Homo sapiens: one gene and its partners. The protein of the gene in region 2 purifies or fractionates together with the protein of the main gene of each other region. This does not show direct contact. Each region holds a gene or a part of one and is shown on either strand. Other genes may lie near its edges. The genes, in order: PFAS, DFFA, GNB4, NSUN2, ISOC1, FAM118B and NUDT5.

Region 1 (3,500 bases), on a different chromosome or scaffold from region 2:
TGGATTTGTCTCCTAGGTCTGGCTTTAGACTCTTGGGACCTAGACTTCTACACCAAGCGCTTCCAGGAGCTACAGCGGAACCCGAGCACTGTGGAGGCCTTTGACTTGGCGCAGTCCAATAGGTGAGGAGAAATGGGGTTGTTCCCATACCTGAGCCCATGGGTGTTGGGAGAGACCACAGGGGCTCACCTTCATGTTCCTCCCTTGGCTTAGGGGCCTCCCTGAGTCTCTGAGGGCCTGGGCTCCCGTCATCCATCAAGGAGTCTACATTCAAATCTTGGTTTTATCTTCACTTTGGCTCTGGATAGTCCAAAATGACAGAATACTTGAAGATTATGACTTTTTGGAATATATTTTGATCTGTCATCTAAGTATGAATTTGGCTGTAACTCTGCTGTTAAATGCTGGTGAGAAGACATGGCATTAAGAAATGACCCCGTTTCCACCTGCCTTCCCCTCCCTGCATCGCCCCCTGCAGCGAGCACAGCCGACACTGGTTCTTCAAGGGCCAGCTCCACGTGGATGGGCAGAAGCTGGTGCACTCACTGTTTGAGTCCATCATGAGCACCCAGGAATCCTCGAACCCCAACAACGTCCTCAAATTCTGTGATAACAGCAGGTGCTGTGCCCTAGACTGGGTTGGCGTCAGGACCCGGGGAGGGGAGGCCCCAGGCCCTGGTTGGGTTAGTGTAGGTCCCAGAAAGGAAGCAAGGTCCATGACGGGTATGTCCACAGTGCAATCCAGGGAAAGGAAGTCCGATTCCTACGGCCTGAGGACCCCACACGGCCAAGCCGCTTCCAGCAACAGCAAGGGCTGAGACATGTTGTCTTCACAGCAGAGACTCACAACTTTCCCACAGGTGAGCTGGGTTCCCTGGAGAAATAGGTGAGATCACAGAATAGGGTAGGGCAAAGGTCCCAGGCCCCTGGAGTGGGCCTGGGGAAAATAATCAGGGAAATTGGTTGTCCTTATTTTCAGTGGGGGTGGTCAGAGATGGGGGTTTGTCTCTGAGGCACCCAGACCTCTCCCCACTCTCTCTTTGCAGGAGTATGCCCCTTTAGTGGTGCAACCACTGGCACAGGGGGCCGGATTCGAGATGTCCAGTGCACAGGCCGCGGGGCCCACGTGGTGGCTGGCACTGCCGGCTATTGCTTTGGAAATCTGCATATTCCAGGTTCCATCTCCTTCCTCTCTATCCACCTTCCCTTCCAGATTCCTTGTCCTGGCAGGCAGCAAACTTCTATCTGTTAGGTCCATAGGGTTATCCTGTGTGCCTTTTCTCAGGAGGAAGGGCTCTAGGATAGCTGGCCTTTCACTAACTATGGTCATAAGTGTAGACCTGGGGAGATGAGGTGGCCAGACTGCTTTTGCAGGTCTACGATTTTCTTTAAAAACTAGCCTTCATTCAGCCAGAAAGCATGATATTGGGTTGGTCTTATGATCAGTACCTGCCCCTCAAATCTGGTTTCTTAGCCTGAGAAACTTGGCTGGGCGTGGTGGCTCACGCCTGTAATCCCAGCACTTTGGGAGGCTGAGGTGGGCGGATCACAAGGTCAGGAGATCAAAACCATCCTGGCTAACACGGTGAAACCCCGTCTCTACTAAAAATACAAAAAATTAGCTGGGCGTGGTGGCGGGCGCCTATAGTCCCAGCTACTCAGGAGGCTGAGGCGAGAGAATGGCGTGAACCCGGGAGGCGGAGCTTTCAGTGAGCCAAGATCACGCCACTGCACGCTAGCCTGGGTGATAGAGCGAGACTCCATCTCAAAAAAAAAAACAGAAAGCCTGTGTAACTCTGATTGCGAGATTCAGAGGGAAGGCTGGTGTGGGTGGTGGAAAGAAGACCAGTGCCTCACTGCAGGCTCTAGGGCTTCCTAAAGCAGGACTTCCTGAAGTGGAACATTGCAACCATGCAGGTGGTCCTTGGTGGCCTTGACTCTTCCTGAAGGATGCAGGCTGCTCCGGCCTGTCTTCACAGTTCATTCAGTTCATCCAGTTCTCTCTCCTTCCCTCCCAGGTTACAATCTGCCCTGGGAGGATCCAAGCTTCCAGTATCCTGGGAATTTTGCCCGGCCCCTGGAGGTTGCCATTGAAGCCAGTAATGGAGCTTCTGACTATGGCAACAAGTTTGGGGAACCAGTGCTGGCTGGTGAGGCTGGGGTGTGGAGGGATGACAAACACCCAGAGGGGCTTGTGGGTGGGGTGTGCGACCCAGGGGCTGTGCTATTGGGCGAGCACTGGGGGAACTGAGTGACAGGTCCCTCTGATGTTCACACTCCAGGCTTCGCCCGCTCCTTGGGCCTCCAGCTCCCAGACGGCCAGCGGCGTGAGTGGATCAAGCCCATCATGTTTAGTGGGGGCATTGGGTCCATGGAAGCTGACCACATAAGCAAGGAGGCCCCAGAGCCAGGTAAGAGCCTGCCACCTTTCTCTGGATCCAGCCAGCTTTCTCCCCAGCACAGGATGGCTACAGGGAGGGAACTTAGGGAACACTTCAGTGGTTAGTTTTTAATATGTTGGCTTATCTTATGTGTCACATAATGATGGACAACTCATTCTGAGAAATGTGGCTATTAGGTAATTTCATTATTGTGCCCACTTCATAGACTGTACATACACAAACCTAGATGGCATAGCCTGCTACACGATCCACACAGCCTCTTACTGGCAATATTATCCAGGAATTTTGTACACTTGGGAGCCATGATGAACAAAACAGCATGAGAATAAAATAAGCACAAGAGAAAATAATGCAATCAAGACGTGGTGGGCCAGGCAGGGTGGCTCGCACCTGTAATCTCAGCACTTTGGGAGACTGAGACAGGTGGATCACCTGAGATCAGGAGTTCAAGACCAGCCTGACCAACATGCTGAAACCCTGTTGCTACTAAAAACACAAAAATTAGCCAGGCATCTGCCGGGCATGGTGGCTCATGCCTGTAATCCCAACACTTTGGGAGGCTGAGGTGGGCAGATCACGAGGTCAGGAGATCGAGACCATCCTGGCTAACACGGTGAAACCCCGTCTCTACTAAAAAAATAAAAAAATTAGCCAGGTGTGGTGGCGGGCACCTGTAGTCCCAGCTACTCGGAGGCTGAGGCAGGAGAATGACGTGAACCCAGGAGGTGGAGCTTGCAGTGAGCTGAGATCCCACCACTGCACTCCAGCCTGGGCGACAGATGGAGACTCCATCTCAAAAAAAAAAAAAAAAAAATTACCCAGGCGTCATGGTGCATGCCTATAGTCCCAGCCTCCTGAGGCACAAGAACCACTTGAAGCTGGGAGGTGGAGGTTGCAGTGAGTGGAGATCGCACCACTGCGATCGCACCACTGTCAAAAAAAAAAAAAAAGACGTGGTAAATATGAGATAATATGAAGCTACTGTCAATGTAACATGGCATACCGTTTTTAGGTAAACTTTTTTTTCTCTTTTTTGTTAATTATTATTATTTTTAATCTGCATTTTCTTTCTCAAGTCAGATTTTTTTTCTCTTTTTA
Region 2 (3,254 bases):
GCAGGGAAAAGGTGATGAGTCATCATGGACTTATTTGACCACTTTTTATGCATGCTTAGAGGAAAACAGAATACTGTTAAGAGATTCATCTGCTAGTTATTAAGTAAAGAAATATCACAATAGGCCGGGCGCAGTGGCTCACACCTGTAATCCCAGCATTTTGGGAGGCCAAGGTGGGCGGATCACCTGAGGTCAGGAGTTCGAGACCAGCCTAGCCAACATGGTGAAACCCCGTCTCTACTGAAATTATAAAAAATTAGCCGGGTGTAGTGGTACACGCCTGTAGTCCCAGTTACTTGGGAGGCTGAGGCATGAGAATTGCTTGAACCCAGGAAGTGGAGGTGGAGGTGAGCCGAAATTGTGCCACTGTACTCCAGCCTGCAACAGAGTGAGACACTGTCACACAAAAAAGAAAGAAATATCACAATATGTCACAATAGGCCGGGCGCAGTGGCTCACACCTGCAGTCCCAGCACTTTGGGAGGCCAAGGCAGATGGATCACCTGAGGTCAGGAGTTTGAGACCAGCCTGGCCAACGTGACAAAACCCAGTCTACTAAAAATACAAAAATTAGCCAGGCGTGATGGTGGGCACCTGTAATCCCAGCTACTCAGGAGGCTGAGACATGAGAATCGCTTGAACCCAGGAGGTGGAGATTGCACTGAGCTGAGATCCTGCCACTGGGCTCCAGCCTGGGTGACAGAATGAGACTCTGTCTTTAAAAAAAAAAAAAAAAGAAAATCACAATAAGTCCTAGGGTAAAGATGGGGGTACAGAAAACAATTAAATAGAACAAAAACAACTGTTTCCTTTTCCTGTGATTCAAGAAGGGCTTAGATCTTCTACTCAGCATCCTTTTACTAATGCCCTCCATTGGCTCTCACCCCAACATTTCCTTTTTTATAGCTTATTTTGTAATGCCTCCTTAATTATCCTTTAATAGAAGCCACCGCTGATAAGCTACCTACACTCATACAGAAGCATTAATATAATGCCCCAGATGTACTGTTTCAGGGCAAAAAGGAAAATAATTTCCAACAAAGTGGTGTGTGTTTCACTGTCAGATGCTTGCACTTACACACGGAATCGCTGTGCATCCGACAGAGGCTGATTGGCACATGGGGCACGGGGATTGTCAGCTCAAACACCGTCAGCAGCGTTGCCCTTGGAAATGGGATTTCCCAGAACAGTAAACGTGTCTGTCCTTGATTTACAGAGTAGCTACATTCCTAGGAAATCCAGGGTACATTAAAACTCACCATGTTACCCAGGCTGGTCTCAAACTCCAGGCCTCAAGCAATCCTCCCACATCAGCTTCCCAGAATTTTGGGATTACAGGCATGAGCCACCACACCCAGCCAGAATATTTTATTTCTGTTAGACACACAGAGCGTTCGTTGACTCGTCTGGGCGTTAGTGTTAATATTCTGTACTTGAAGCAAGCCCACCAAGCGGCTGAACTGGGTGGATAATGGAAAATGTCCTGTGGATTTGGGAGTGAGACAAACCGGCTTGAGTCTAACCTCTCAGTTAGTCTAAGGCTCCAAGCTTGAAAGGGTTAAATGAAGTACTATATTTGTTTTGTTTCGTTTTCGTTTTGTTTGAGGCTTTGCTCTGTTGCCCAGGCTGGAGTGTAGTGGCACAATCTCTGCTCACTGCAACCTCCATCTCCCAGGTTCAGGCGATTCTCTTGCCTCAGCCTCCAGAGTAGCTGGGATTACAGGTGCCCGCCACCACACCCGGCTAAGTTTTTTTTGGTATTTTTAGTAGACACAGGGTTTCACCATGTTGGCTAGACTGGTCTCAAACTCCTGACCTCAAGTGATCCACCTGCCTTGGCCTCCCAAAGTGCTGGGAGTATAGGTGGTGAGCCACCACGCCTGGCCTAAATGAAGTACCACATGACCGACAGACCGACCTGGGGAACATAGCAAGACCCCATCTCTACAAAAATGTAAAAAATAAAAATTAGCCGGGTGTAGTGGTACATGCCTGTAATCCTAGATACTCGGGAGGCTAAGGCAGAAGGATCACTTGAGCCCAGGAGTTCGAGGCTACAATGAGCTGTGATCGTGCCACTGCACTCCATCCTGGGTGGCAGAGTGAGGCCCTGTCTCAAAATAAATAATCCAGTCCCCCCCAAGAAAGGAATGAAGTGCTATAATGAGAAAAATCCTAGTACCTAACATATAGTAGACAGTGGAGAGTGGTTCTCTTTCGTTTCTCAGGGGCAGACAGATGGGGTGCTGGAGTCCTCTATCAAAGAGTCAGAGCTCTATCCCAGATGTGTAATGAACGTGGTCACAGACATATTGTCCCATTACCATTTACCTTCCCTATAACCACTGTGCCTCCAGCCTTGTAGAATAGACACATAGGAGCGCAGCAATACGTCTAAAAATAGGAGTGAGAGAGGGCAGGGCATGCCCGTTCTTGTGGTAGAAGAAAAGAATGTCAAAGAAAGCAGCTGGGACTAATGAACTTTACATTAGCCATATTCCATTATTTCAGCTTAAGTCAAATGTCGGTCCTCATGAGGCAACTGGCTTTGACAGGAGCTACGCTAATTACCACTTACCAACCTTTAATTTCTGGGTAAAAGCAAAAGAGAAAAACTAATGGATTTTTCATTTTCCAGAGAGACAAGAATAAAATAATAGTAGTCTGTAGAAAAAAGAAAACCTGCATCAATTACAAGAATTATTAATGTATCTTTAATAAATAACCACATTATTTAGCTGTTTAATTTCCTAATTACCTGTTCAAGCTTTTTTTTTTTTTTTTTTTTTTTCTTTTTCACCTTGAGGGTTTTTGTCCATCTTGTTTGTGGGGTTTTGCCTTAAATCATTTTGGCTGCATCTTATACACCTTGTGGTTTTTAAGGACCTTGGACATGATCTAGTCTGAACCCCCATCCACCGCCTGAGTCCTCCCAATAGGTCTGACAGTGAGGGTCTCCATTCTGTTTGAGAGCCTCCAGCCAGGGGGACAGACGCCCTCCCCAGGAGCTGCACTGCATTTACAGGTTGCAGAACCTTAGAGTTGACAACTTGCTCAAATGATATCAGACAACACTCGTGCAATCACAAGGCTGCAAGGAAATGAGCCCACAGATTAATGCATAGATAGCGGATTTTCTTCACTCTTTTTCTTTTCTTTTTTTAAGACAATCTCGCTCTGTCACCCAGGCTGGAGTTCAGTGGCTCTATCTCAGCTCACTGTAACCTCCACCTCCCAGGTTCAAGGGATTCTCC
Region 3 (3,500 bases), on a different chromosome or scaffold from region 2:
CTCTAGTATTGTCATATTCTCAGGCTCTCAATTGGTGTTTTTAGATTGGATGAAATATGGTTGTTAGGCTTCTATGTACATTCTTGTCATGAAATTTAAGTAAGTCAGTAAGTACTAAACCAGTCAGCTAATATCCACCCAAATCTTGTATAACTAAGATGTTGTTACCACAAAAATGTTTAATCATAGCCAGACATTTTTAGTCAGTTGCTAAATTTTATTTTATGAAATATGTTCAAGATTTTTGGCATGCAGCATAAATTTTTTAAAAGTTGGAAGAACATTTTTTGGTATCAAGTTTTTAGTTGGAAAAATTGTATTTTTCTGAATTATTCTACATTAATGCAATGCATAACCAATTTAAGCTATTTTTTCCCTCTAAGTGTCAAATTATTTTTGTGTTTGTTCCTCTAGGCTGCTAGTCAGTGCTTCTCAAGATGGAAAATTAATTATTTGGGATAGCTATACAACAAATAAGGTAGAATTTCTTCATAATTCTTTTAAATAACCTTATATTTGTTTGGCTGTTCACCAGTTCTTTCCTTTATTCTTTTACCTCAAACTTAAATTGCTTTCTGAGATAAATTTATTGTTTATTTTAATCTAGTTCTTCTCTTTTGTCTTAGTGTTTACTTTTAATGTTTAACCCTTTTTCATTTCCAAAGATGACTCTATGTTTTACTAGAGGGCTCATATTTAATATATGAATATTAGAAGAGTACCATTTTACATATACTAATAAATGATTTTTAAAAATTCCCATTTCCTAATATGACAAAGACCTTGAGATTTTTATTTCTAGTTTTGGATAAGTTAGATGGCTAGTGGGAAGCTCTTCTTTGGCCCGCTCCAGGCACTGATTTGTGCTTCTGGACTTTTTAGAAGATACAGTAGATTGGAGGTAAATGACAACTTACGTAGATCTCTTGGTGGTAAAAGACTGTGGATGGTCCTAATACATCCACTGGAAGGAATCCCCAGTTTAAAATAGTTGAGTGGTGAAAAAGCTTCAGGAATACTTTGATAAGCTAATACCTTTATACTCTGTGTATACATATTAGTATTTTTATTAAACATTTGAAAATACCATTTTGTGAAATAATAATTTCAACCTGATTGAGATTTTAAAGCTAGCTAAGACAATTTTGTAATATAATAGTTTTTCTTTATTAATCATCATTAAGCACATTATCTTTCAACTATATTTTCATAAAACAAAAAAAATGTATTTTAAGCGTATTATTTTAGGTTAAGTGAGAGCATAGTAGTAATCCTGCCACGTGTTGATTCCCTGTATGGACTGTTTAGCCGTGGTATTCTCATACACCTTTTTTCCATCTGACCTTCAAATGATTGGTGTTAGGGTAACAAGGCAGCAGACAGTGTTGTTTCTAGAGCAATAAAAAACTATCACCATTGTTTGAATGAGATCCCAGAATAAGGGCCTATTAATAGAGGGATGCCAGTGTTGTCTTTTCATGGAAGACTCATGTAATCGACTCTGATACTTGCTAATTATTTCCCTAGTTCTTGTTCAGAGTTATGTTGGAGGAAATTTCTCTTCTGAGCACTATTACAAAAGTGAAAATTCTATTAAAACCTCTAACATTTTACACTTAATTTTTCAAATGGCAGTATATTAACCTTGGAACATCTTTATGTTCATTATTTTATTAAGAGAATTATTTCCAAAAAGAGCACTTTTTGACTCAAATGATTTGATAATACAAAACAATAGGCATTTTAATGTGCGTTAGTGTTGTATTTTTCATGGTTCACTTTCTCAAGCCATTACATTATTTTATTTGACTTATCTTTCTTAGATGTGTTTAATTTTTAATAATATTTACTTCATTGTAAATGGGTTTATGCAATAGATGACTGTTTTTGTAATCTGAGTGATGTGTGGTGTGTGCCCTACAGATGCATGCTATTCCTTTGAGGTCCTCCTGGGTGATGACCTGTGCTTATGCTCCCTCTGGTAATTATGTTGCCTGTGGAGGCTTGGACAACATCTGCTCTATATATAACTTAAAGACCAGAGAGGGAAATGTGAGAGTAAGCCGAGAGTTGCCAGGTCACACAGGTGAGCTTCCCTAAATATTCTTTCCCACCACACGATTCCTTGTGTGGAATGTGCTGATCAAGGACAAATGACAGATTGTGCTCGGCTGGCTAAAGGATGAGGATTAATCGGGTGGGAATGAAATTATTATGAACAAAGGAAACATTAACTTTTTATAGTCATACAAACGTTGATCATAATTTTATTTTTCAAAAATAGCTGTATTGTTTTTGTAAAAAATGATAAATTTACTGCACAAAATTCAAACTCATGAAAAATAAAGCAAATAAAATGTTCTCCATTTTCTGCTGCCATATAACAATTATGGGATTGTGGCATCTGTACTCAATTACATAATTGAAAGTATGCATTAAGGTACATTAGTGAAGTGCTTTTCACCATGATAGTGTATTGCTTTGTTTGCCAGTGTGCCCATCATAGTTCAATAGTGTAGTATTGGGTTAGTGGTGTTAATCAGGAATTTATTGCCACTTATCTGGTATCTATCCATCTGAATTTTTAGCCATACTATTTGACCATGCTTTTACAAAATCTCTAGAATGGTGTTTTTCTGACATTTCCATATTTTGAAACACTGATGAATGCTAAGCATTCAAATGCCACATCTTTCATAAAGTCTTCACTGTTGTTCTTCTGATTTCTTACAATATTTTATTTTTTTAATATTTTTTATTTGAAAAAAAAATTTTTTTAACTGCTCCTTGCAGAGAAGGGCTAACTCATAGGCGGTGCACCCAGAGGCATCCTCTCACAGTATTTTAAAACTATTTCTCCAGGGTGCTTAACACAGTCGGCCATAGATTATAGTTCTTCCCAAGGTAATTGTCTTAGGTGGCAGGGGCTGTGTCTTATTCAATTTGGTAACTTTCAGAGTACCCAGCACAATGTCATTAACATAGTTAATGCCTAAGAATGGTTTGTGGATAAAATTTGGTTTATAGACAATGTAGGATTTGAAGTAACTAAAAGTAGAACTATAGACTATATTGACAAACACTTGTTGCCCAAGTATTCTATTTTTAAAAATATATATTGCTATTTCACATGGTAACTGAGTTATTCAATCAGTGATAACCTAAAATTTGCTACTCTTTATGCTGTAGGGTACTTGTCCTGCTGTCGTTTTTTAGATGACAGCCAAATTGTTACAAGTTCAGGAGATACAACTTGGTAAGTTTATTCCAGAAGCACACTGATTATGGGTTTGAGGGTGGTAGCAGGAACTGACATAAGAAGAAGTAATTGTCATGAAATTTTGTTTTTAATTACAGTGCTTTATGGGACATCGAAACTGCCCAGCAGACCACCACATTCACTGGGCATTCTGGAGATGTGATGAGTCTTTCTTTGAGTCCTGACATGAGGACTTTTGTTTCTGGTGCTTGTGATGCCTCTTCCAAATTATGGGATATTC
Region 4 (3,500 bases), on a different chromosome or scaffold from region 2:
CATGGTATAACTGAGTAACAAGTTTTTTTAAAAGGAAAGAAACAAAACTAAAGACATCATCTGTTCCGTTCCCATAGGAGGTGCACGGATGATGATCCCAGGTGATAATGACTTCTGAATGACATAAGTTTGTCAAGACCAGAATTCAAAAGCTGCCACAAAACTTGTTAGCACAGAATGCAAGCTTTAGATACGATACCACATTATGGAAGAATGCCATTTTGTTTCAGTAAGTGGCAGAGTTACTGCTCATGGCAAAACTCAGTATGAAACTTGCAGCTGGTGGCTCTGAATATAGCTGAGTGTTAAAATAATCTGGAAAAAGCCCTCTTTAAAGTAAAATTTAAAATACATCATGAACTAAAGTTTTTTTTTCCTCTAGGTTGCAATTTTTCAGTATTCCTTGGGGTCTCATGTTTTCCTACCCCTGTTTTTTGATCAGAAAGATAACTCGTTCCTTGTATCATATTCTGAGATCTGAGAACGCAGTGACCTTATGAGCAAGAGGTTGCAAGCTGGGGAAATTTCTGAAATTGTGGTGGGATTTCTACCATGCAAACAACTAGTGTACAGCCAGGAATGCCATTGCAAAGTGGGGATTACATCTCATGGGATAATTCCATCCTGCAGACCTAGTCCCTCGTGTACACGCGGCTAGACCATCAAGGAAAATCAGCATTTACAGAGAAAGCCAACAAAAACAGGCGTTACCTTCTGGGAAAACAGGGCAGATAAAATTAGACACAGAAAGTAACAAATCCAGTCTTTACTATAAAATATACATGGAAAGAGCTTCCATTAACAAAAACATGAAAATAACTTCCATTAAATAAAAGTAGAAAGTCAGAAATTTAACGGTGATTGTAAGAAAAATTTAGCTATTAGTAAGAAAAATTTAGCTATTATATTAGCTTAATTGAAATTACTATGGAAAATTTATTAGTCATTATTCATATAATTCTGATTAAAATGCCATTGTTGATTAACTGAGTTTTTCAATAGTATTTTAGGTTCTGAAAAACATGAAAATAACTTCCATTAAATAAAAGTAGAAAGTCAGAAATGTTTACCTGTGATTGTAGGAAAAATTTAGCTAATATATTAGCTTAACTGTGGAAAATTTCTTATTAGTCATTATTCATGTAATTCTGATTAAAGTGTCATTGTTGATTAACTGAGATTTTCAATAGTATTTTAGGTTCTGTGTCCTAGGTCTGCAAATTAGTCTTGCTAGTGTTTTTTCCAAATGGAAGCACATTAATATCTCCTTAGTGAATGGAGTTTACTGTTCAAATCCATTATTTTCTGCTTGAAAATTGAAGTATAATTTAAAACTATAATACATTAGAAAATCCCTAAAACAAAAGCTGAAAGCAGATTGCAGTTGGTGAAAATGGAGATTGTTTCCTAACTGATATTTGTAACACTTGTTTTGTAACTTAGCTTGTATGTGACATATCTGTTAAAGTGCAGTCATCCACCTGTAGGGAGCTTTGCACTCATAAATATCTTTTTTCCAGTGGAGACGGCACTATGAGAAAAAACATTGATGTTTGGAAAAAGTGGACCACCTTAAATAGCTTGCAGCTACATGGGTAAGTAAAACTTCATCACTGCTAACACTGTGTGACAAGTAGATCAGCAGAGATTTATTGTTATGCAAGTGAGCATCCGATCTTTAATTAGAGAGCTGTAAGCATCAGAGGATGGTCAATGGCCACCTTCAACTGTTTTATCAGAAGTTATTTGAAAACCTTTCAAGAGCAATAACTGCAAATTGTATACATTTCAGATAACACGTTTATTAAAAATGCCTTCTATAAAAATTTCTTGCAACACTTCAGATATGTATTTTTCCATGAAATGACCGTTTACCTCTTGATGTATGCATTACTAATCTTTTCTCTCTGTTTTTGTTCTTTTGTATCATCGTTTTGCTAAGAGACATTTTGATCTCTTAGAAATATTTTTCGGTTGGCTTTTTATGATGGGGAACTATTCATTAAAGAACAATTGGAAAATTCTTAAAGAGAAATCTCATAACACGATGATCACGTCTGTTAATGTTTGGTGTGTTGTATTGTTTTTCTGTTTACAGGGATTTTTTAAGTACTTTTTCCAAATACTTTTGATCATGCTGTCTGTAGAGCAGTGTATTCTTTTTTTCATTTGACATGACAAATGCCATGGTCTTGCATGCAGGACTGTACTGTGCCTGAGCCACAGAATACTAATTAGCATCCACCACAACCAACTATAGCAGGAGGCCTCGTCTCCATAAAATACTGTCTACTGTTTTGTGACACAGAGACAAGAGTTAGGACTGGAATGTATGATACCAATTTTTCATAGAAAAACCACATATTTAGGAAGTATGGAGGTTTTTTAAATAGTGAAATTTCATCTAATACATTGAATTCTGTTGTTACTGAACTTTATACTCTGCTGGTTGACATATTGGGAAAGGTTAACAGAGCAGTAAGAATATTTATATAATACATTTTTTTTATTAACATGAAACACTTTATATAAGTTTACTCTAACTTCATTTAGATCCCTGGAAGGTTTTTTTTAAGTATAATTGTGTTATAAAAGCTTGTAATGAATATGTGACATAAGGAGGTGCTTCTAATATGTGCACTTCATGGATACATTTGGCCTTGCAGTCATCTGATATCTCCCCTTAGCTTACAGCTGCGGATTGCAACACGCGGGGCTGAACAGCTGGCTGAAGGTGGAAGGATGGTGTATTCCACGTGTTCACTAAACCCTATTGAGGATGAAGCAGTCATAGCATCTTTACTGGAAAAAAGTGAAGGTAAGCACGCTTGATGGATCTTTTATTAACAGCATAGGGGGCTTTTCATATGTGTATGGTACAATACACATAACGTGAGGTTTACCATCTTAATCATTTTTGAGCCTGCAGTTCAGTCCCGTTAGGTATATTCCCATTGTTAATCACCACCACCATCCATCTCCAGAAATCTTCACCTTGCAAAACTGAAACTCTGAACTCCTTTAAACAGTAGCTCCCATCTCTCTCTTCCCTGCCCCTCACACCACCGTTCTATTTTTTGTCTGTATGACTTTGACTACTCTAGACCTCACAGAAGCGGAATCATACTGTATTTGTCTTTTCGTGACTGGCTTATTTAACTTACTGCAGCGTCCTTGAGGCTCACTTGTGTTGTTGTCTGTGTCAAAATTGCATTGCTTATTAAGGCTGAACACTATTCTGTTGTTTATATAAACCGCATTTTGTTTACCCATCCATCTGTTGATGGACATCTGGGTTTCTTCCACTTTTTGGCTGTTGTGAGCCATGCTGCTGTGAGCATGGTATACAAATACCTCTCCAAGATCCTGGTTACGATTCTTTGGATATACACTCAGAAGTTGAATGGCTGGATCATATGATCATATAGTAATTCTGTGTTTAATTTTGGGGGGACCCCACCATGCTTTTTTTCACAGTGGCTGCGTCATTTTGTATTTCT
Region 5 (3,500 bases), on a different chromosome or scaffold from region 2:
TAATTTCCGCTATTAAAAGCAATTCAGAGAACATCTTTTTGAGTTTTTTTTTTTCCTGTAATTCAGATACTTTTTTTGGATAATAGCGGTAGAAATTGACTTACTGGCTCAAACAATAGGACCATTTTTCTTCCTTTATTGACCTCCACTGAAAATAAATGTCATTGTACAACAAGTGCTAAATCATTCTTTTTCTTTTTTCCTCAGCTCACTACCCTGGGAAATCTTACACCTTCAAGCACTGTGTTTTTCTGCTGTGATATGCAGGAAAGGTTCAGACCAGCCATCAAGTATTTTGGGGATATTATTAGCGTGGGACAGAGATTGGTATGCTTGTTTACTTATTTGGTCATATTTGCTGAATCATCATATACACTCATATATACACATATATGTATATAGCTAATTGTTTTTGTGTTTGGTTATTTTTTTTCAGTTGCAAGGGGCCCGGATTTTAGGAATTCCTGTTATTGTAACAGAACAATACCCTAAAGGTCTTGGGAGCACGGTTCAAGAAATTGATTTAACAGGTGTAAAACTGGTACTTCCAAAGACCAAGTTTTCAATGGTATTACCAGAAGTAGAAGCGGCATTAGCAGAGATTCCCGGAGTCAGGAGTGTTGTATTATTTGGAGTAGAAGTAAGTACCTGTTACTATCATTTAGGCACAATATTATTTATAGAAAACTCAATATTTGTGGAATGTAATTTCATATATGGTATGCCAGGTAGGCAGTAATAATGAGGAAAGGTAGCCACCATGTATTATGTTCACTATTTGCATGGCACTGATCTGAACATTTTATAGCTGTTTATTTATTAAGTCCCTTAAGCCAAGTAAGAGCTAAATACTCAGTAGTCTCCCCATATTAAAGAGGATACTAAAATACCGAGATGTTGTGTAACTGACTTGAATGTATGTAAGCTGATTGATTCTTGGTCCTGTATTTTTAACTACTACTTTTGGAATACATTTTCACCAAAGGCATTATTTTAATGTATGTGTTGTAGGATTTCAGTTAGGTCATATTTTTGTGCTAGAAGAACCTTGGAGGTCATGTAGTTCATTGTCCTTCAAATCATGTATGTATCTTTTTACAGGGGAAAAATACTAATGGATTCCTATTGCTGATTTCAATTGATTTATTCCTAGCTTTTAAACAACTATTAAACTAAAATTTTAAAAATTAAGAAAAAACCACTAAAACAATGAAATCAAAATATTAATTTAATGTGATTATGACAATTTGAAGGTAACTTTTATAGTAGTAGGTTTTAACAGTAGAAAGATATTTCCTCAGGCTTAGATGTATATTCAATATTTCTGTATTTTGGCACAGTAAAGAAGAAGCCTGTTTTGTATAAATATGTCGTACCAAGTGCTGTTGCTGGCTTTGCACCTTTTTTGCTTGTTCATCATCATTAGACCTTATGCTCAATCACAATTATCTTTGAGTGGTCCTTCAATGCTAATTTTAATGAGGTGTCATTTGATAATTCTCCAAAACGCTCTTGTCATGTGAAGATAAAGTTGACGTGGCATCATTGAAATGTACTTTCATTGGTTGTAATACATGATTCAGTCATTGTTGCAGCCTGTTTTCACTCTATAGTATCTGTTAATGAATTGACACAAGTTAGTACTTACAAAGATGGAATCTGTATAATACATTTGCGGATGATATGAACTGGGTATTTTTTTCCCGTGTCATAAGTTATTTTTCACTTGGCCTACCTTTACTACAGAGTGCCTCATAATGACTCAGTTTTCCCACTAAGTTCTCAGTCTGCAAGACTGAAGACTCATTCTTCATGTTGGACACTTAGGGTGAATGAAGAAAAAAACTCAAAGTCGCACCAAAACTGAGTGCTAGTAAATCAGCTATGTGAAGGTCATCCAGATCACATGGAGCAAAATCTTTAACAAATTCTTGTAAAACTCTAAGAATATGTTTAAGGTTCTTAGTATCAGAAACATTGGCCTAATTCAGTTCCTGATTTTACAAATGAATAAACCAAAGCCAGAGATACTGTTTTATGCTCCAGATTATCTAGCTAATTAGAAGCAAAACTAGATGTAGAACAAGGTCCTTAGATGATCTGTAGTGCTCTGTCTGCTTTATCATGTTGTTGTACATTTGTAAACTACTTTTAGTTTATTATGTTATTACATATGATTCTTGTACTTTCCTACTAGACTCATGTGTGCATCCAACAAACTGCCCTGGAGCTAGTTGGCCGAGGAGTCGAGGTTCACATTGTTGCTGATGCCACCTCATCAAGAAGCATGATGGACAGGATGTTTGCCCTCGAGGTAATTGTCCTGCTTGGGAATAGATCATTTGTCAAGTTTTCCAAATAAATGAGAAGAATACTGGATATTTAACAGTAATGAAAGGTTTACCTCCTAAATTTGAGTTGGTCTGGCAATATCAGACTAATTGATTTCAACTGTGCACTGACTGACCCTTAAGGCTTCACCACCATATCCTATTTTATGTCTCGTTTCCTCCTTAGATCAAGGTTTCTAGCGTTGCCACAAACTCCTTTACATCTTTCGTCATACGTTTGCCCTAGTTTTATACGTGAACTAGGAGATATTCCAAGAAGCCTAACCTAAACTGTTTAGAGGTTTGCAAATTAAAAATAGCTCAGTTGGGTTTAACTCATTTAGCCAAAAGCTAGAGCAGAGCAGGCCTAACCCAGTTTAATATATAGTGGACCTTCTGTATCCACAGATAGAAAATATCAGAAATAAAAAGCAATAAAAAATAACATCACAACAATAAAAATAAAAATAGAATGATAGGGCAGAATAACATCTATTTACATAGCATTTACATTGTATTGGGTATTATAAGTAATATAGAGATGATTTAATGTATATAGGATATGCATAGATTATATACAAATACTATGCTGTTTTATATCAGGGACTTGAGCATCCATGGATTTTGGTATGGGGTGGGGTGGCATCCAGGAACCAGAGATGACTATTAGATTTCCTCAGACTTGAATTTCTGGGACTAAGTGGTGTGTCATTGACTGTGGACACCACTCACATCCAGTGTTTCATGGTAGTCTTGGCATTAGAATGTCACCATGTCCCATGGAATCAGGGAGTCTGTAATTCTCTGTCAACATTGCCCAACAGTAGGATGTCAAGCATTTTCTTTTTCAAGACTGTTAAAAAGCAAACTACCACATAATCTTGGGAAATATTCACTCCATATTGTCGTTTGATCTCTCTCTCTCTCATATTTAGTTCTAATTTTGTAATAATTTTAGAGCAATGTGCATGTGAATTTAATTGCTGAGTTCTTTAACTGTTTATTGAGAATGGGAAATACATGGGTTTGTTTTGTTGAGACCCTCCAGTGTTCTATGCACAGTCTGGCCTGTGAACTGCCTTGTCTGTAGTAGGAATGCTAACTCATCCCTTTAGCCTACTGTGTTCCCCAGGGTGGTAAGGTAGAGCAAATGAGAAAGGGGAGGGCCTT
Region 6 (3,500 bases), on a different chromosome or scaffold from region 2:
GTGCTGGGATTATAGGCGTGAGCCACTGTGCCCGGCCTGGTTCAATCCACTTTTAATATTTACATTATTACGACTGTATAAGTAGTATTCATAGCTGAGCCTAATGCGTAACGATTATGTTTCCTTTCTTGCCCATTTTTTTTGCTTATGTCATTAAAGACTGTCTTTTTTGTTTGTTTGTTTGCTTTCAATGTATTCTCACATGCTCTGACAGAAGAATAAATCTCCTAGCTATACTGAAACACACCGATAACTTGCTGGTTTGTGTCATGGATTCTTCCTTCTGGATGCTAGTCCACTCTGGACACTTGTTCTCCAGTCCTGTTGCGTTCCTGATATTTGCTATTTCCCATTCCCATCATCCTGATAATTTCCTTTACATCTCTCCTGTATCGATTCTCTGTTTGCTGGATCTCATGTCCTCTTTTTTGGTGCACGCCTTTGTTTTCCTGAAGCATGTCCTTGCATAGCCTCCTAAGTAAGGACCCATAGGAGAAAATTATTTGGACATATTTGAAAAGGTCTTTATCATACACTTACATTCATTTGATGGTTTGACTGAGTATAGAATTTTTAGTATCTCTCATTCATACTCTGCTAACATCTAAGTATTCCTGCCAAAATAGCCACTCTGTTCTGATTCCCAATCCTTTGTATTGTATGACCTCTTTCCCTGTTTTTTGTTTTGTTTTGTTTCATTTTTGTTGTTGTTGTTGTTCATTAGAAGCTTATAAGGATCATTATTTTATTCTCAGTAACCTGAAATTTCACAGTGATGTATCTTGTCATATGAATCTAGACACCGGGCAGCTCTTTAAAGCTGGCAACTAGTACCTTCACTTTGGAGAAGTTGACTTATATTACTTTTTTGATACTTTCCATTACAATGTTTTTTCTATTCCACATTTTTTTAAAACTCTTGTTATTCAGATGTTGGACTTCTTGTATTAAGTCTCTAATTTTTTATGTGTTGCTTTATTTTTTTCCCCCCCATTTCGTTTTCTTAAATTTAGCTTTCTCGGGGGTTCTCTGTTTTATCTTGTGGATTTAAAAATTTCTGTTGCGTTATTTTTGATTTATGAAGTCTTTTTGTTTGTTCATTTTTTCATAGCACTCTGTTTATGTTTCACAGATGCTTTTTTTTTTTTTTTTTTTTAGACAGAGTCTCACTGTCTCCCAGGCTGGAGTGCAGTGACACTATCTCGGCTCATTGCAAGCTCTGCCTCCCGGGTTCACACCATTCTCCTGCCTCAGCCTCCCGAGTAGCTGGGACTACAGGCGCCCGCCACCATGCCCGGCTAATTTTTTGTATTTTTAGTAGAGACGGGATTTCACTGTGTTAGCCAGGATGGCCTTAATCTCCTGACCTCATGATCCACCTGCCTCAGCCTCCTAAAGTGCAGGGATTACAGACGTGAGCCACCGCGCCTGGCCTTTTTTTTTTTTTTTTTTTTTTTGAGATGGAGTCTCGCTCTGTTGCCCAGGCTGGAGTGCAATGGTGCAATCTCAGCTCACTGCAACCTCTGCCTCCCGGGTTCAAGCAATTCTCCTGCCTCAGCCTCCTGAGTAGCTGGGATTACAAACGTGCTCTACCACACCTGGCTAATTTTTATTTTATTTATTTATTTATTTTTTAAATAAAGACAGGTTTTCACCATGTTGACCAGGCTGATCTCAAACTCCTGACCTCAAGTGATCCACCTGCCTTGGCCTCCCAAAGTGCTGGGATGACAGGCGTGAGCCACCCCACCTGGCCAATTTTAAAAAAATCTAGGCCAGGCTCGGTGGCTCACGCCTGTCATCCCAGCACTTTGGGAGGCTGAGGTGGGCAGATCGTGAGGTCAGGAGATCGAGACCATCCTGGGTACCTGGGTAACATAGTGAAACCCTGTCTCTACTAAAAAAAAAAAAAAAAAAAAAAAAAAATTAGCGGGGCGTGGTGGCGCGTGCCTGTAATCCCAGCTACTCGGGAGGCTGAGGCAGGAGAATCACTTGAACCTGGGAGGCGGAGGTTGCAGTGAGCTGAGATTGTGTCACTGCACTCCAGCCTGGCAACAAAGCTAGACTCCGTCTCCAAAAAAAAAAAAAAAAAGAAAAGAAAAAATATATGTGAGGATATCATTGTTTTCTTTTAATTTTTTTTTCTCCTTCCCATACTATCTCTTATTTCCTTCAGATTTCTCTCTACCTGCTAGTTTGTTTGGTATAACTGTTATGTTGGGGGCTTTCCTCAGATGTGAGGTGACCCTTGTTTGTCTGCCCATTTTTAACAGAAAACACCAAAAAGCCAATGGAAGAGGCCGGGTGCGGTGGCTCACGCCTGTAATCCCAGCACTTTGGGAGGCCAAGGCAGGCGGATCACTTGAGGTCAGGAGTTTGAGACCAGCCTGGCCAACCTGGTGAAACCCCGTCTCTACTAAAAATACAAAAATTGGCTGGGTGTGGTGGCACGTGCCTGTAATCCCAGCTACTCGGGAGGCTGAAGCAAGAGAATCACTTGAACCCAGGAGGCAGAGGTTGCAGTGAGCCAAGATTACGAGATTCCATCTCAAAAAAAAAAGCCAGTTGGAGAATCTGTGTGTACATAAGGGGCTTGGTCCCAGACTCTATGTAGAGTTAAGGAATTCCCACCTGTCAGAATCTGCAGGTTTTTCATCTCATACTGGCCATTTTCCTGAAAGAGGAATCGTCCTCATTTCCTAACTGGATGGGGGATAGGGGTGCAGGTACAGAGTTGATTCCTAGAGTCTGAAAAGCTTCCTCTGGGGAAAGAGAGTTGGGGGAAATCTTGTATTTTATATACAGACTTTTACTTAATCCCCACCCTCAGCTGTGTGCAGTGTTCTCAGATATAGTCCTCTGGTCAACCTCTGCAGAAGGGAAACCTCTAGCCTGCTGAAAGTTGTAACTGTTAAAGGCTTGTAACTGATTCTCCTATTTTAGCCCCACCAGCCCCTCTACCTTTAGATGTACATGAACATTCCCAAAATTCTACCAAGGGAATCGGCCTTTGCATTACAATTGGTAAAATGTTGTTGCCCTTTGACCTCTGTTGTCTGCTGTCATCTTTACCTAGCCTACTTTTTAGGTATATATACCCGCTAAAAAAAAAAAGTAACTATTATTTGGTGGTTTACAAAGAACCAGTAATAAAACACAATTGTTAAATGTTTTATTTTTAAGTGGAAGTCTTTTTTTTTTTTTTTTTCGAGACAAGGTCTTGTTCTGTCACCCAGGCTGGAGTGCAGTGGCACAAACACAGCTCACTGCAACCTCAGCCTCCTGGGCTCACGTGATCCTCCCGTGAACTTAGCCTCCCAGGTAGCTGGGACTACAGACGTGCCTAATTTTCTTTTTCGTTCTTTCTTTGTTTGGCAGAGATGGGGTCTCACTAAGTTGCCTAGGCTTGTCTCAAACTCCTGGGCTCAAGCTCAGCCTCCTAAAGTGCTGAGATTACAGGCATGAACCACTGCACTTAGCCAAATTGGAAGTCTTAATTA
Region 7 (3,500 bases), on a different chromosome or scaffold from region 2:
GTTCACGCCTGTAATCCCAGCACTTTGGGAGGCTGAGGCTGGTGGATCACCTGAGGTCAGGAGTTCGAGGCCAGCCTGCCCAACATGGCAAAACCCCATCTCTACTAAAAATGTAAAAATTAGCCGGGTGCAGTGGTAGGAGCCTGTAATCCCAGGTACTCGGGAGGCTGAGGCAGGAGAATCGCTTGAATCCGTGAGGCAGAGGTTGCAGTGAGCCGAGATCATGCCTTTGCACTCCAGCCGGGCAACAAGAGCGAAACTCCATCTCAAAAAAAAAAGTTTACCTAATAAATTATCATCTATGGTACTTTCAAAGGAATAAGTGCCTGTTTTCTTAGTAGGGCTGCAGGTTTCAATATGCTAATGTCTGTCTCTAAATATTTAAACTTCTACGTGGTTTACTTCCTTATTGCTTTCAGGTCTCCATTCAGAAGTCACCAAATTAAACAGGCCTTGCCTGATCACTCCGTGTAGATTACTCTTCCCATCTTCCCCACACTTCTCATCCTTTTTAATCTTTCTTCATGAAACGCTGAGTCACTTGACATAAATTTTGTGTTCTTCCTCACTGTTTTTCCTTTCTCCTCACTGGAAAATGAGGTCCGGGGGAGTGAGGGTCTTTGTCCCTCTCACCACCACTTTTTTTTTTTTTTTTTTTTTTTTAGATGGAGTCTTGCTCTGTCGCCAGGCTGCAGTGCAGTGGCACGATCTCAGCTCACTGCAACCTCCATCTCCTGGGTTCAAGCCATTCTCCTCCCTCAGCCTTCCCTGTAGTTGGGGCTACAGGCGCACCCCACCACGTCCAGCTAATTTTTGTATTTTTAGTAGAGACAGGGTTTCACCATGTTGGCCAGGATGGTCTCCATCTCTTGACCTCGTGATCCACCCGCCCTGGCCTCCCAAAGTGCTGGGATTGTAGGCGTGAGGCGTGAGCCACCGCACCCGGCCTCACCGCCACTTTCCTAAAACATCATCTCACCTTTCACAGGTTGGCCACAAGGGTTACCTATGATAGTCAATCAGATATTTGATTTGTAAACGCACTTTATGAATATTCATACAGTTGGTTTTGTTATTGATTGTATTTTAGAATAGGGAAGCTTGCTGTCTTGGGGACAAATTGAAGATCAGATGGGTAGTATGATCACTTTGGGTCCCAGAAGAAACAAAGAGCAGACTCACTTTTTCCTTTAGGACAGTTGGGAAGAGAGTTGATGCTGGGTGGGCTGTATTTTCTTTGAAGCCGAAGTTAGGTGGGGTAGGTTAGAGAACCGTGGAACGTAAGAGTGCAGTGGCGTGATCTCGGCTCTCTGCAACCCCCAACTCCTGGGTCCAAATGACCCTCCTGCCTCAGCTTCCTGAGTAGCTGGGACTACAGGTGCCCACCACCACACCCGGCTAATTTTTTTATTTTTTATTTTTGTGGAGACAGGGTTTTGCCATGTTACCCAGGCTGGTCTCAGACTCTTGGTCCCCCAAAGGGCTAGGATTCCAGGTGTGAGCCACTGTGCCTGGTCCAAGTAACAGTTCTTAAAAGAAACAACAGAGAAAACACAGGGGAGGAAATCATCAGTGAAGTCGTTCAAGAAAAAAATTCCCTGTAAAGAAGCATAGTAAGAAGTTTCCAGATTGAAAGGACCCACTTGACTTCCCAGTACAATAACATCGACATGAAAGTGACTAACTACAAGCTTCCAGAGGAGGAAGACAGGTCACATGGCAAAAAGATCAAGAATAAGAATAGCTTTGGACTTCTCAACAGCAGCACCAGAAGTAAGACAACTAAGCAATGCCTTACAGTTTCATAGACAACTGGCTTTGGGTCTATAATTCTATATACAGCTGAATTAACAACCATGTGTGTGGGTAAGAAAAAAAGACTTTGACCTTCGGACAGGCAAGGTCCGAAAATGAAGGAATAAAGAAAGAGGAAATAATAATATACAATAAATGGGATAAGGGCCTGCTCTTTTCATAACAGAACTTGTAGTACTACTCGATCCTTTCTCTGCAACTATGACTTTGATACATGCTGAAACTTAAAAGTAAGTGGGGAGGTGGGTCCAGTGGCTCATGCCTGTAATCCCAGCACTTTGGGACACCGAGGCGGGAGGAGGATCGCTTGAGCCCGGGAGTCTGAGACCAGCCTGTGAAACATAGTGAGACCCCACCTCTACCAAAAGTTTAAAACATTAGTTGGCTGTGGTAGCATGCACCTGTAATCCCAGCTACTCAGGAGGCTGAGATGCGAGGAGCACGTGAGCTTGGGAGGTAGAGGCTACAGTGAGCCATGATTTCGCCACTGCACTCCAACCTGTGCAACAGAGTGAGATCTTACATCTCAAAAAATAAGTAAGTTTAGGTGTAACAGATGGATAAAAGACTGAGAGGTGGGCATGGAGAGTGGTAAATCTTTCTTCTGTCTTCCCTTGGAAAGAGTTTAAGATTCGGAGTCAGAAAAATCAGGCTGGGCGCGGTAGCTCACGCCTGTAATCCCAGCACTTTGGGAGGCCAAGGAGGGCAGATCACTTGATGTCAGGAGGTTGAGAGCAGCATGGCCAACGTGGTGAAACCCTGTCTCTACTAAAAATATAAAAATTACCAGGCCTGGTGATGTATGCCTGTAATCCCAGCTACTCGGGAGGCTGAGGCACGAGGATCACTTGAACCCAGGAGGCGGAGGTTGCAGTGAGCTGAGATCGCGCCATTGCACTCCACCCTGGGCAACAGAGTGAGACTCTCTCAAAAAAAACAAAAAAGAAAAAAAAAAAAAGAAAAATCTGATGAAGAAGGGTGGCCTCTAAGTGCCTAGAACAGGCATGGCAGGAGCTTGGCTGTTGTGGCTGAGGGTGACTAGGACTGCTGTCACTTCCTTCCTGGCTAATCCCCGGGCCTCCCTGTTCACATTTCCACCTGCGGCAGTTCCCTCACATACTGAGACAGGCAGCGTTGATGGTAGATGAATTTTTTGCCGTTTAAGTACTTTGACTAGTGTCCTGTGGACGAATGTTTAATTCAGAAAAATAATTTTAGCCTGAACAAATCTCATTATCTTGCAGGGTGAACTTCTCACCTGAGGGCTGTAAAGACTCGTTTGAAAATGGAGAGCCAAGAACCAACGGAATCTTCTCAGAATGGCAAACAGTATATCATTTCAGAGGAGGTATAACTTGTTTTTCACTTTCCCTTCCCTCCCCCACATAAATCTGAGTTTAGCAGAAATATATAGACTGTTGTTACAATGGTGGTCTTTCATTCTTGAAGACAGTTGTAAAGATTTTTCCTACTCCCTTTTTTGGGCTCGGGCACATTTTGCTCTTGTGTGGGAGGAGTAGTGTGTCTCTCTGTGTATTAGTGAAATTGAGACTCTAGGAGATTTGGGCTCTTAACAGAAAAATTCTTAATCCTTCCTGTATTTCCCTAGATAGAAGAAGAAAGAATATATGCATTTGCGGACTCAGATATTTCATATGTAGTTGTCACAACTTGGCTGTTGATGG

The links.
Region 1: the proteins of DFFA (region 2) and PFAS fractionate together in Homo sapiens (co-fractionation; one large-scale study listed by BioGRID). This does not show direct contact.
Region 3: the proteins of DFFA (region 2) and GNB4 purify together in Homo sapiens (affinity purification with mass spectrometry, with the first as the bait; one large-scale study listed by BioGRID). This does not show direct contact.
Region 4: the proteins of DFFA (region 2) and NSUN2 fractionate together in Homo sapiens (co-fractionation; one large-scale study listed by BioGRID). This does not show direct contact.
Region 5: the proteins of DFFA (region 2) and ISOC1 fractionate together in Homo sapiens (co-fractionation; one large-scale study listed by BioGRID). This does not show direct contact.
Region 6: the proteins of DFFA (region 2) and FAM118B fractionate together in Homo sapiens (co-fractionation; one large-scale study listed by BioGRID). This does not show direct contact.
Region 7: the proteins of DFFA (region 2) and NUDT5 fractionate together in Homo sapiens (co-fractionation; one large-scale study listed by BioGRID). This does not show direct contact.

Annotation. Positions count from the first base shown.
Region 1 is NC_000017.11:8,255,789-8,259,288, forward strand, and holds part of PFAS (phosphoribosylformylglycinamidine synthase), read left to right. Parts: intron 1-16; coding exon 17-122; intron 123-478; coding exon 479-619; intron 620-735; coding exon 736-860; intron 861-1,046; coding exon 1,047-1,175; intron 1,176-2,018; coding exon 2,019-2,150; intron 2,151-2,282; coding exon 2,283-2,411; intron 2,412-3,500. UniProt on the Homo sapiens protein: Phosphoribosylformylglycinamidine synthase involved in the purines biosynthetic pathway. Catalyzes the ATP-dependent conversion of formylglycinamide ribonucleotide (FGAR) and glutamine to yield formylglycinamidine ribonucleotide (FGAM) and glutamate.
Region 2 is NC_000001.11:10,456,022-10,459,275, reverse strand, and holds the end of DFFA (DNA fragmentation factor subunit alpha), read left to right. Parts: 3' UTR 1-2,754; downstream 2,755-3,254. UniProt on the Homo sapiens protein: Inhibitor of the caspase-activated DNase (DFF40).
Region 3 is NC_000003.12:179,413,471-179,416,970, reverse strand, and holds part of GNB4 (guanine nucleotide-binding protein subunit beta-4), read left to right. Parts: intron 1-414; coding exon 415-478; intron 479-1,923; coding exon 1,924-2,086; intron 2,087-3,189; coding exon 3,190-3,256; intron 3,257-3,357; coding exon 3,358-3,500. UniProt on the Homo sapiens protein: Guanine nucleotide-binding proteins (G proteins) are involved as a modulator or transducer in various transmembrane signaling systems.
Region 4 is NC_000005.10:6,616,045-6,619,544, reverse strand, and holds part of NSUN2 (RNA cytosine C(5)-methyltransferase NSUN2), read left to right. Parts: intron 1-1,520; coding exon 1,521-1,595; intron 1,596-2,687; coding exon 2,688-2,818; intron 2,819-3,500. UniProt on the Homo sapiens protein: RNA cytosine C(5)-methyltransferase that methylates cytosine to 5-methylcytosine (m5C) in various RNAs, such as tRNAs, mRNAs and some long non-coding RNAs (lncRNAs).
Region 5 is NC_000005.10:129,104,749-129,108,248, forward strand, and holds part of ISOC1 (isochorismatase domain-containing protein 1), read left to right. Parts: intron 1-207; coding exon 208-327; intron 328-436; coding exon 437-640; intron 641-2,197; coding exon 2,198-2,314; intron 2,315-3,500.
Region 6 is NC_000011.10:126,235,782-126,239,281, forward strand, and holds part of FAM118B (protein FAM118B), read left to right. Parts: intron 1-148; exon of another isoform or gene 149-290; coding exon of another isoform or gene 291-474; intron 475-3,500. Other genes in the region: SRPRA (signal recognition particle receptor subunit alpha), read right to left, coding at 291-474. UniProt on the Homo sapiens protein: May play a role in Cajal bodies formation.
Region 7 is NC_000010.11:12,185,892-12,189,391, reverse strand, and holds part of NUDT5 (ADP-sugar pyrophosphatase), read left to right. Parts: intron 1-3,059; 5' UTR 3,060-3,100; coding exon 3,101-3,163; intron 3,164-3,500. UniProt on the Homo sapiens protein: Enzyme that can either act as an ADP-sugar pyrophosphatase in absence of diphosphate or catalyze the synthesis of ATP in presence of diphosphate.